3 separate regions of the Homo sapiens genome follow, and all the other regions are linked to region 1. Evidence: fine-mapped expression QTL. A gene starts in region 1. Each other region holds a variant in brackets. All regions are shown on one strand. Distances are from middle to middle.

Region 1 (4,000 bases):
AGCGGTCCCCCAAGGCTGGACAGAGCCCCTTGGAGGCTCCCAGCGTCTCTCTATCCCCATGGGCAGAATGGAAAGGGGGGCTATTTTCCATTTCCTTGTCAACGTCAGGGGAGCTTCTACAAATCAGATCCCATGGCCTCCCACTCAAAACCCTCCAAGGGTTCACTGGTCCAAACAGAATAAACCCTAAACTCCTTTCCATGACCCAAAAGATCATGATCTGGCTGGTCCCTACCATTCCCCTATCCCCACCCCCAAATCTGCCTACAGCTCCAGCCACAATGGCCTTTGTTCAGTTCCTCTAAGCTCATTCCCACCTCCAAGCTTTTGCAGGCACAGTGCCTTCCTCCTGGTTCAGTCTTCCTCCAAGACCTCCCAGCGGAGGGCCCCTCTTCTAGCTGGGCTCCACTCAAATGTCACTCCCGGAACAGTCATCTCAGGTACATACACCCCTGTCACCTTCTTTTACATCACCCCATCTTATTTTCCTGGCCGTCCTCACCCCAATCGGATTTCATAGCCATTTGCTATGGGTTTGTTTAATGTTTGTCCACTCACTTCCCCAGCCCCGGGAGAGCAGGGGTTTTGTCCGTTTTATACAAGGCACCCAGTTCTGTCCCTGGCACGTTTCTTGAAATAACATATTAATCCAGTAAAGATTCTGAGTTTATCTTTCTAACAAAACTGCCTGTCTTGCTGCCTGTGCCCCCAAATGGCGGCTCCTTCCTCCTGGAATCTCCTTCCCTTCCCAACTCAGCTGACCCCTTTCCAGGCTTAGAGCAGGGAGCAGATAGCAAACTGTTCACTCCACAGTCTTAGATACCAAACTGGCCGGGAGGGCTTCCAAACGACAGATGCCAATTTGCATTCTATTTACATGTCATTTGCATGCAGTTTAACTCAAAGCCTGGATCCTCCGCAAGCCCGAGTCCCCACCGAAGAAACTTCTGAATTAAGAAGGTTCCTTGGCTGAAGTGCCGGGGTTTTTGTGCCAGATCCCTCCCCCACTTCTCTTGTCTTTGCGGGGTCCCCCAGGGCTTTCTGGGCTCTGTTCAGGTGCCCCCCGGCCTGGTGCAGTTGGGCGGCCAATGTGGCGCGTGGGCTGGGGCCCCAGGCGGGGACGCCGCTGCCCGCCACACTCCAGGGGCCTTTGTCCGCGCTCCAAGGAGCCGCCCCCTTAGCGAACGGGGGACGGAAAGGGAGGACTGGCTAGGCCTGGGTGTGACAGAGCAAGGACGGAGGAGTGAACCCGCTGCACGGGGGAGATTTCTGGGGCAAGGTCGTTGGCCCCTTCCCAGGCTGTTCAACCGGCTGCCCGGGGCCAAGGCGGGTGCGGGCTCCTCCCGCGCGCTCCCTTTTCGGCCTAAGCGCTAGGGACCCCGGGATGTGTGGGGTCCTTGTGGGGCTGGAAGCCTGTGTCCCCCAAGGAGAGGGGACCGAGAACAGGTCTAGTCCTTATCTCCAGCCTAGCCGCCTCTTCCAGAGGTCCAAGTGCCCCCTGTCTGGAAGGGAAACGCCACTGCCCCCCCCGCCATTGTATGCAGCCGCCCCCTCCTCCCCACCCCTCCCCGTCATTCGTCCCCAGCCCAGGTCTCAGCTCTGCCATCTCCCACCGCCGTGTCCCCCCCTCCCCTTGCTGAGTAATGCGCACTCAAGCCGGCTGCGGGCTTGACCCCCAGCCCCCGCGACAGGTGCGGCTGTTCACCCCCAAAGTCCAGCCCTTGTGCCCCCGGCTGCGTCTGCCCTGTCCACAGTCAGCCCCCAACGCGGCCCCAGGACCAGCCCGCAGCTCCTCACACATGACGAGTCACTAGGACACGGCTGGGCTCCTTTACCCTCCCAGCTGCCCTTCACCTGTGGTCGCCCCCACACCCTCCTGGGAGACTTGGATCTCTACCTGGTCCGGGCACAGTCTCCCTCCCCCCGTAAAGGTCCCCAGATCCTCCCCTCCCCCGCCCACCCCTCTACGGCTCTGCTCTCGTCGCACCGTGGTTCCCCTCGCCCAGATTCCACATCTCCCCCAGCAATAAACTCCCTGGCTTGGGTTGGGGGGGCGCTTAGAAAAACACAAGAAGCGGACCCCCCAATTCTCCCAAATCCACGGCGGGAAAAGTTTCTGGGGTCCCCACAGCGTCCTCCACTGCATCGGCGCAGCTCGCACTTACCGACCCCCGCGGCCCCGCAGCGCCGACGCTCCAGCTGGCCTTCGGCCCGAGTCACATCTCTGCGGCGCGGCCGCGGCCCCCGCTCCACGCACGCCCGCCTGCGGGTCCAGCTTCACTGCAGCGCCTGCCAGAGTCGCTGCCGCGCGAGGCGCCCCCTGGCCCGGCCCGCGCTGCTGCAGCGGCCGCGGCCCCGCCCCCGCCCCCGCCCCCGGCCGGCCCCGCCCCCGGGCCTCCGAGCCCCACCCCCGGTCCCGCCGGCGGTTCCGCGCGGGGCTAGGCGCCGTCTGCATGCACCCCCGGAGCCCAAGCTCGTAGCTTCTAGCCCGGATCTCAGAGACGATTCCCCCGACCTCGTGCCCCCAATTCGGGGACATTCCCCCCACAACGTCAGTGCGCCCGTAAGCAGTCCAGACGAGCCGGGCAACTCCCCAGGGTAGATCCATTTGCGGGAACACTCCCCTAGCCAATACACTTACCGAGGGAGGTATCGCGACCCAGGGGTCCCAGCGCGGAAGCCTTCCTGCCCCCAGGCCACGCTCCAAGGGGGGTTCATAAGCAGTAACTTCCCCGAAACACACCAGCACCAGGTCCAGGACGCAGAGAGGATCGATCCCGCCCGGTGCCTCTCGAAGTCACCAACGCCCCGGTATACACCTAGGCGCACACACACCGCTAGGCCTCCTCCAGGCAGGTTCCTCCTGGACACACTCTTCTCTCTCCTCACTGCCCAACTCCCAGATGTCGTTGTCCGTTTACGCACACTGGGACCAACACCCGCTTCCTTGGCCCCTCGAAACACACACGTCCAGTCGGTGCACCCCTCACGTGGGTCCCTACGCAGGATCGCCACCACCCCTACCGCACACATCACCCACGTACGCACATGTCCACTGCCCTTCAGGGCTCACACACTCAGCGGCCCGGGCCACTGGCCGTGCGCTCCGCAGACGGTCAGGGCACAGCCCGGACGCGTGTCCGCTGGGCGGCCGTGGGACCTGCTTGAAGGAGGGGTCCGGGGCAGCCGTCTCTGAGTCCCCCTCACCCCGTCCTAGTCCTCAGGCCTCTCCGAGGTCGCATTGCTTCGACCAGGCCTGGGAGCTGCGCTCCGGCACCCCATATGGGGCTGGTTCCCTGGGTGACCTTCAGACCATCAAACCCTGGCAGTCTCAGGTGGCCCCCCGCCAAAGCCAGAAACAGACCTTTGAGCAGCATCCCTTCCCTGCACTCCAGATTCTCAGGGTGAGATTTCCTTTCTCCCTCCGCGGTGCGCCCCCCAATCTCTACCCCCGTCGCCGCAACCATCCCAGCCACATAAGACCAAAAGGGATAGGACGGACCCCTGCTCCCCTCTCCCGGGGGCTGCAGGAAGGGGAGATGCAGAACACCTCCTTCTGGGAATAGTGGCAGCCCCTGATCTTTGGGGACCGTGGCCCTTCCAGATACTCCCATCCCTCCCTGCCAGCCTCCCAGTTCCGGTCCGGTTAGGCCACATCCCCCTTGGGCACGCATCTCTGGGATACCTTTTATTATATTCAAGGGAAAATGGAAAGGAAGAACCATAATGGCAGTTTTTCGCCCCACTCCTGGTTTATTTGCATGGATCCTCAGAGCCCAGAACAGTTCCAGGCACAGTAGGCGCTCATTAAATGTTTGCGGGACGACCCAAAGTGTGTTCCCGCCAGACTGCGCAATTGGAAAGTGGATGGGCACTGTCACCTGGTGGCAGCTCTTGGAACTGACGCCGAGATCCTTTTGTCAACGTGGGCAAGTTCACTTTCGTGAGCCACATGTCCTCAACGTCTGCAAAATGGAGATCTTTTTCATCGCACATGCCT
Region 2 (4,000 bases), 270 kb before region 1:
AAACAAAAGCTCTGAGTGGGTAGAGCGTGGGGGGAGCTTGAAGCTGTTATTAAAGGAAGGTATGATTAACTCCTAACTCACAGCCGCTTCAGCTCATCTCCATGGCTCAGCCACCAGGCCAGCCTTTGCTGTCACCTAACAGATAATTATTGTCTTTTCTACAATATGATTAAGTGGAAGGAGAATCAGAACACTGTAGAACTGGATCTGATATTTCTTGTTAGCATATATATATATATTTAATCTATGTGCTTGTCCTTGAAAACAGCACTTCCTGTACCCAGCAATCACAGAGCTGCTCTTGGAATTTAACACCCTGGTGGTTCTCAAATGCCATCTGAAAAACATTATTAGTGTTACCCATCATGACCTCTGGGTAGTGGAAGGTGAATGGGAGAAATCTCTCCCCATTTGAAGAAATAGGGAACCAGTCTCACTTTGTTGCCCAGGCTGGAGTGCAGTGGCACAATCTTGCTCACTGCAACCACCACCTCCCGGGTTCAAGCGATCCTCCCACCTCAACCTCCCAGGTAGCTGGGTCTACAGGCGTGCGCCACCACACCCGGCTAATTTTTGTGTTTTTAGTACAGAAAGAGTTTCACCATGTTGACCAGGCTGGTCTCAAACTCCTAACCTCAAGTGATTGGCCCACCTGGGCCTCCCAAAGTGCTGGGATTACAGGTGTGAGCCACTGCAGCCCAGCCTACGAAGTTGTTTTTGCGGTTAAGCAGCAATTTGGAAACGAAGCATTTCTGAGGAGCTCAGTTTAAGAAACACTGTGATGTTGTGTTTTAAACCTATGAACTCCCCTCCGTAGCTCATCCCTCTACTTTTCCATCTAACCCCAGTACTGGCACCTTCTCTATGATTAGTAAATTTCTTCAGCTAGAAATGTTACAGTCTGTTTTTTAACAATGAAGTCAGGACCCAGTGGATTATAGCATTGTTACACTTCATGCTCATGTTATATAAAATTGCATAAAATGTATTAAAATTTATGTCTGCTCTTATCTCTGCCTTGCAAAGAATGAATTTGTATAGCTTTTAACTAAGCATGTAACGGGGGCAGCACCACATCTGGAATTCAAGCTGACTTTCTCACGTACCGTAATCTTTGTGCTTGGTCTAATAAGTACAACCCCATGTGTGTTTATCATTTTTTTATTGTATGCACAATCTTGAGAGTACATTCCTTTTTAGTTCTGTATTGATTTGTTCTCTTGGTCGTCTGTTCAGAAATACATTCAATACCTTTGGGGAAGGGCAAAGATGATTTCTGCAAATGTTGCCCTTTTTTATTAAAAATAGCTTCTGTGGTCTTTCTTATAAAAGCAATACATGTTTATTGAAAAAGAAATCAGGCTGGGCGTGGTGGCTCACACCTGTAATCCCAGCACTTTGGTAGGCCGAGGCAGGCAGATCATCTGAGGTCAGGAGTTGGAGACCAGCCCGGCCAACATGGTGAAACCCCGTCTCTACTAAAAATACAAAAATTAGCCAAGTGTCGTGACACATGCCTGTAATCCCTGCTACTTGGGAGGCTGAGGCAGGAGAATTGCTTGAACCTGAGAGGTGGAGGTTGCAGTGAGCCAAGATCGTGCCACTGCACTCCACCCTGGGCAACAGAGCGAGACTC[T/C]GTCTCAAAACAAAACAAAAAACAGATAAGGAAAAAAAAAATAGGCCGGGCGCTGTGGCTCACACCTGTAATCCCAGCACTTTGAGAGGCCAGGGTGGGCAGATCATGAGGTCAGAAGATCAAGACCATCCTGGCCAATGTGGTGAAACCCTGTCTCTACTAAAAATACAAAAATCAGCCAGGCCTGGTGACACATGCCTGTAATTCCAGCTACTCGGGAGGCTGAGGCAGGAGAATCCCTTGAACCAGGGAGTCGGTGGTTGCAGTCAGCTGAAATCGCACCCACCGCACTCCAGCCTGGCAACAGAGCGAGACTCCATCTCAAAATAATAATAATAATAATAATAATAATAATTTTCTGGACTTTTTCTGTGTCTATAAACATAGGTATATATATTTTTTAATTTCCAAAAATAAAATCATACTATAGTCATTATTTGCAACCAGTTTTTCCATTTGTCTGGCTGCAGGTGGGAATGGAAGTGGCCCCACATCTCAAAGAAACCCTAAATAAGAACTTTTTTGACTTCCTCCTTACGTTCAAACAGGTAAGAGAACACTATCAGAATAGCTCATCGATATAACAGTTCTATGATAGCAAATTCACAAAACCCAGTTGGTTTTCCAAGTGGAGAATGCCTTAAAGCTCTTTAAATGTGCAAGCCCTGGAAAATTACACTAGCTTCTGTTGTAGACAATTAAAATGTGTTGATTGTACTGAATAAGCGGAGAAAGTTAATATGCATGTGTTAACAGGAAACGTCTCCAGTCGATCAGCCTTGCTTCTGAGCATCTGCTGGCTCCATTTTTATCAGGTTCCTGCTTTCCACAGCGCTCATTCCCAAAACAGCTCGGCTTGGTGACATGAGAAACTTTCTGTGTTTTTTTTTGGTTTAAAAAAAAAAAACAACCGAGAAACCAGGCTATTTCTCTCAGGGCTGTCCACATGCTTACAAGTATGCACAGTCTGTGAGTTGTGTATGTTTTGTTTGTTGTTTGGTTTTTCCCCTCCTTTTCTAAGTGTTTGTTTGGCCTCCTGTAGATTCATGGGGATACGGTCCAGAACCAGCTGGTGGTCCAAGGAGTGGAGCTCCCATCTTACCTCCCCTTGTACCCGCCTGCCATGGACTGGATCTTCCAGTGCATCTCCTACCATGCCCCCGAGGTAACTGCCAGGTGGCTTCAGTGTGACGCTCACCTCCTGTATGGTGACAGCCCCTGCCCACTGTGCCCTTTAACGTTAATGGGACCCTTTCATAACAGCTATAGCAATGTTAGTGCTAGCCAGCCTTTATAGAGGGCTTGCCATGGTGGCTGGCTCTGTGCTGAGTGCTTTTCTGAGATAGTCTCATTTTGACAGCTGTGGAAGGGGAATGTGGTAGCTCCAGAGGCCATGTACCTAAGTGAGGCCACACAGCTAGAAAGCAGTTTGGTGGCTGGGTGTGCTCATATCTGTAATCCCAGCACTTTGCAAGGCCAAGGTGGGAGGATCACTTGATTTTAGGAGTTTGAGACGAGCTTTGGCAACATAGCAAAACTCCATCTCTACAAAAAAATAGAAAAAATTAGCCAGACACGGTGATATATGCCTATAGTCCCAGCTACTCAGGAGGCTGAGGTGGGAGGACCACTTGAGCCCCAGAGTTCAAGGCTACAATGAGCTGTGACTGTACTACTGCACTCCAGCCTGAGTGACAGAGCAAGACACTGTCTCATTAAAAAAGAAACAAAAAGGAAGATGGTTGGTGACTTGATACAAACCCATAGAATTGGGCTCCAGGGCCAACAAGCCTTATTGCGTCTTCACTTAACCTTCATGTACCCCTTTTGTGTTTATAATAATCCAATAAAGTCTGTAGAGCAGGTATTTTATGGAAGGAAAACAAAACTCAGATGCTTAATTTCTTTTATAATTTTATTTTTCTTTTCTTTTTTCTTTTTTGCCAGTTGAAGTATTGTCAGGAATTGAAGTGACATCAGAATCATAGCAGACACATATTTTCTTTCTTTTCCAAGACTGAGAAGCAGTTTTAGTAGAACACCAATTCAAACTGTCATGAAGACTGTGATAGGCCGGGCACGGTGGCTCATGCCTGTAATCCCAGCACTTTGGGAGGCTGACGTGGGTAGTTCACTTCAGGCCAGCAGTTCAAGACCAGCCTGGCTAACATGGATATATAGGTGTATATCACCATGCCTGGCTAATTTTTTGTATTTTTTTGTAGAGATGGAGTTTCACTATGTTGCCCAGGCCTGTCTTTTGTAAAGACCCTGTCTCTACAAAAAATACAAAAATTAACTGTGCGTGGTGGTTTGTGCCTGTAGTCCCAGCTACTCAGGAGGCTGAGGCAGAGAATCGCTTGA
Region 3 (4,000 bases), 200 kb before region 1:
GGATCGCTTGAGCCCAGGACCTTGAGACCAGCCTGGGCAACATGGCAAGACCTCATCTCTACAAAAAATAGAAATTCGCCAAGCGTGGTGGTATGTACCTGTAGTCCCAGCACCTCAGGAGGCTGAGGTGGAAGATCGCTTGAGCTCAGAGTCAAGGCTCCAGCGAGCTGTGATTGTGCCACTGTACTGTAGCCAGAGTGACAGAGTGAGACCCTGTCTCAGAACCCGCCCCCCCCCTAAAAAAACAGGATGATTTGTGATGAAGAGAGAGTAAGAGGACTGCAGATGGAATGTCAGGGAAGGCCTCATTAAAGAGCTAATGTGTAAGATGAGAACTGCAGGCTACCAAGGAGCCGTCTGGCCAAGCCCTGGGGCACAGACTCTAGTCAGAGAGAACGTGCCTGGCTGGAGGCCAGCACCTGGACGTGTGTGCCAGCCCCTGGTGCCACTCTGTGCCCTTTGTCCTACTGTGTGTGGGGGAGACTGGCCTCTGGGGACTGCCTCACCTATCCTTCCTCTAGCTCCCAATTTGTTCAGCCAGTAGGAGGCAGCAGCATATGCAGGGCAGGAGGAAAGCGAGGCTGGGGTATTTCTCCCCCATTCCTCCTGGGCCATGTTTTGGCGATGGCTTTGTTCCTGCAAGCAAGACTACATCTTGGGCTAGATGGCCTCTTGCCGCTGCAGGTTCCAATCATGCTGTTCCCCCTGCCGCTGCGGGTTCCAATCGTGCTGTTCTCCCCACCTTAATGTGGCTGGGGTAAGGGAAGGGGACCCGCATGGGGTGGGCTAGCAAGGCCATGGAAGGGGCTGGCCGTGCAGAGCTTCTGCACAGAGTGAGAAGTCTGGAGAGCTTTCAGCAGGGCATCCCCAGACTCACATACACCTTTTTGGAATGGAATTGAAGCTGCTTACTTTTTTACACCCCAAAACTTTTTATAGATTCAGTTTAGCATCTGAGAAACACTGTTTGCTATAAACTCTGTGACTGTCTCTCAGGTTTTGCCTCTCCCAAGAGAGCGTCCTCCATTTGGCTGTTACCGTTGTTGAGCATCCCAAAGAGTGAGGCTCTATTTAAAGTCACTGCCTCGAGTGGTGGCAGGGATCATCCGGGGGCTCACCCAGCGTAGGTGGCTTCTACCGTTCCATCTGCTACGATACCCGCGATCCTGCTTTTGTGGTTGGAACAGGGCTTCCTTTTTTTTTAACTCCCACCACCCACAGAAAAATAAGAGTGTAATTTTGGAAACAGGCCATTAAGCTGACAGGTAACTTTGCCTTCTCCTTTTTGGGATCCAAAAAGGGATTCTCAAAGCTCGTTTGCCCAGACAGGAGCGTGTTGATTCGTGGGAATCACGTTTTGTCATTTTCCTCTGTATTGTTTAACCAGGCTTGTGAGTGGGTCTTGCCTTTGTTCAGTAACTGACAACGTTAATTTCTCTACAGCTGCTGCGGGAGGATCTGGGCTTCTGTGTTGATTTTCTTTTTCCCTCCCTGCTTCATCTTTGGGATTATTTATCCTTTTTTCGGTTCTCTGCTAGGATCATCCTGAACATGGGGTCCTGTTTCTTGTTCGAGAGCTTCTCAACGTGATCCAGGACTACACCTGGGAGGACAACAGCGATGAGAAAATCCGCATCTACACCTGCGTCCTGCATCTCCTCTCCGCCATGAGCCAGGAGACGTACCTTTACCACATAGACAAAGGTAGCAGAGCCTCCCC[C/T]ACCAAACCATGCTCCGCATGGATTTCATGAAAGGCAGACAGAATGCTTTCATTTTCTCTTTTATTTTTTCCTCCCTTGTATTTTAGCTTCCATGAACTTCTAGTCCAGGGTCTCACTGTATTTACCTGATCTAAGATTTACCTGGAGCAACTCTTAAGAGTACAGATTCTTGGGCCGGGTGCAGTGGCCCACGCCTGTAATCCCAGCACTTTGGGAGGCCAAGGCAGGCGGATCACCTGAGGTCAAGAGTTCCAGACCAGCCTGGCCAACAGAGCCAAACCCTGTCTCTACTAAAAAAACAAAAATTAGCCAGGCCTGATGGTGCACCCCTGTAATCCCAACTACTCGGGAGACTGAGGCAGGAGAATCGCTTGAACCTGGGAGGCAGAGGTTACAGTAAGCCAAGATGGCACCACTGTACTCCAGCCTGGGCAACAAGAGTGAAAACACCATCCCAAAAAGGAAAAAAAAGAGTACAGATTCTTCAGCCCCATCCTGCCCTTGATTGATTGATTGATTGATTGATTGATTGATTGAGACAAGGTCTCACTCTGTCCCCCAGGCTGGAGTGCAGTGATGTGATCTCGGCCCACTGCAGCCTTTACAGCCCAGGCTGAAGCAGTCCTCCCACCTCAGCTTCCCAAGTAGCTGGGAATACAGGCATGTGCCACTGCTCCTGGATAATTTTTTAAATTTTTTTTTGAAGACGGGGTTTCACCATGTTACGCTGGTCTCAAACGCCTGGGCTCAAGTAATCTACCCGTCTCAGCCTCCCAAAGTGTTGGGATTATAACCATGAGCCACCACACCTGGCCTTCCCTTCTTAATTTGCATCTTTAACAAGCACCTGAGATCATGTTGAACATCAGACCAGTCTGGAGAAACACTGTTTAAAAAAATAATTATAATAATTTCAACTTCTATTTTAGATTTAGGAGGTATACGTGCAGGTTTGTGACAGGGGTATATTGTGCAATGCTGAGGTTTGGGGTGCAAATGAGATAGTACCCAATAGGTAGTTTTTCAGCCCTTGTCCCCTCCCCTTCCTCCCCACTCTAGTGGTCTCCAATGTCTGTTGTTTCCATCTTTATGCCCATGGGTACCCAATGCTTGGGGCCCACTTACAAGTGAGAACATGGCGGTAGTTAGTTTTCTGTTTCTGCACTAGTTCACTTAGGATAATGGCCTCCAGTTGCACCCATGTTGCCACAAAGGCCATGATTTCATTCTTTTTTAGGGCTGCATAGTATTCCATTGTGTGTATGTACCACATTTTCTTTATCCAATCCACTGTTGATGAGCATCTAAGTTGATGCTATGTTTTTGCTATTGCGAATAGTGCTGCAGTGAACATACGTGTGCATGTGTCCTTTCAGTAGAACGATTTATTTTCCTTTGGGTATATACCCAGTAATGGGATTGCTGGGTCAAATGGTAGTTCTGTTTTCAATTCTTTGAGAAATCTCCAAAACTGCTTTCCACAGTGGCTGAACTAATTTGCATTTCCACTGACAGAGTGTTAAGTGTTCTCTTTTCAGAGGAACCCTCTTTTGGATCAGTGTGCTACACAATAAACTGGAACAATGGCTAAATATACACATGCATGAGCTTCGTGCCAGGCCTGTTCCTTACCACAGTCTCAGGAAGGACCCTGGTGTGGGTGTTTGCAACTGCTCCTCAGATGATGCCAAGGCTCAGCAGCCCTTGTCTGGGTGCTCTGGAGGAAGGAGGTGGCCTTGATCACCTGCTACCAGACATTTTGAACTTGCTAGTACAAGTTGGGAGCAGCCTCCTCGTGTCCTGGACTTACCACAGGACATCCCAGTTCCAGGCCTTTTCCCACTGAGCCCAAGTATCCTCCTGCCTGGCGGACCCTCAGTTCTAATTTTTGGATTCCAAAAATTGGTCTTAATGTCAAAAGTGCTTTGGCCAGTAATTGTATACTTTACAGTTAAAAAACCAACTCTACACTTGCAAGTTGCAGTGAACACATTAGCAGTGCTTAAGGGATGGCCTGCCTTCTGTCATACCTCTCAGGCTTTCTCTAGCTGGGTCTGGGGACTGAGGATAAAGATGTAATGCAGGGAGGCTGGTTCATAGCAAGAATGATGGCGCCTACCCTGATCTGAGCACTTACTGCGTGCCAAGGACTACATCAGGCTCTACAGGCCTTTTTCCCTTAATCCTTACAGCTTTACTATGAGGACAGGCATTCATGTCCCCATTTGATGTGTAAGCAAGAGGAGATCCAGAAAGACAATGTGATATACTCCAGGGCT

Evidence for each region. PIP is the estimated chance that this variant, and not a neighbour inherited with it, causes the effect.
Region 2: its variant is the best candidate, but not a certain one, in a credible set for the expression of GPRC5B in whole blood (TOPMed, PIP 0.51).
Region 3: its variant is the best candidate, but not a certain one, in a credible set for the expression of GPRC5B in whole blood (TOPMed, PIP 0.77).

What each region holds. Positions count from the first base shown.
Region 1 is chr16:19,882,562-19,886,561 of GRCh38, forward strand. It overlaps GPRC5B (G protein-coupled receptor class C group 5 member B), which reads right to left and starts at 2,287. Exons shown (of 4, transcript NM_016235.3): 1 at 2,166-2,287. RefSeq lists enhancers at 1-299, 300-1,030 and a silencer at 2,546-2,840.
Region 2 is chr16:19,614,008-19,618,007 of GRCh38, forward strand. VPS35L (VPS35 endosomal protein sorting factor like) reads left to right here. Exons shown (of 31, transcript NM_020314.7): 13 at 2,107-2,184; 14 at 2,679-2,801. Among named protein-coding and RNA genes, the nearest start is that of VPS35L, 60 kb to the left of the region's middle. The variant T/C (reference allele first, on the strand shown) is at 1,637.
Region 3 is chr16:19,680,687-19,684,686 of GRCh38, forward strand. VPS35L (VPS35 endosomal protein sorting factor like) reads left to right here. Exons shown (of 31, transcript NM_020314.7): 28 at 1,539-1,704. Among named protein-coding and RNA genes, the nearest start is that of KNOP1, 36 kb to the right of the region's middle. The variant C/T (reference allele first, on the strand shown) is at 1,721.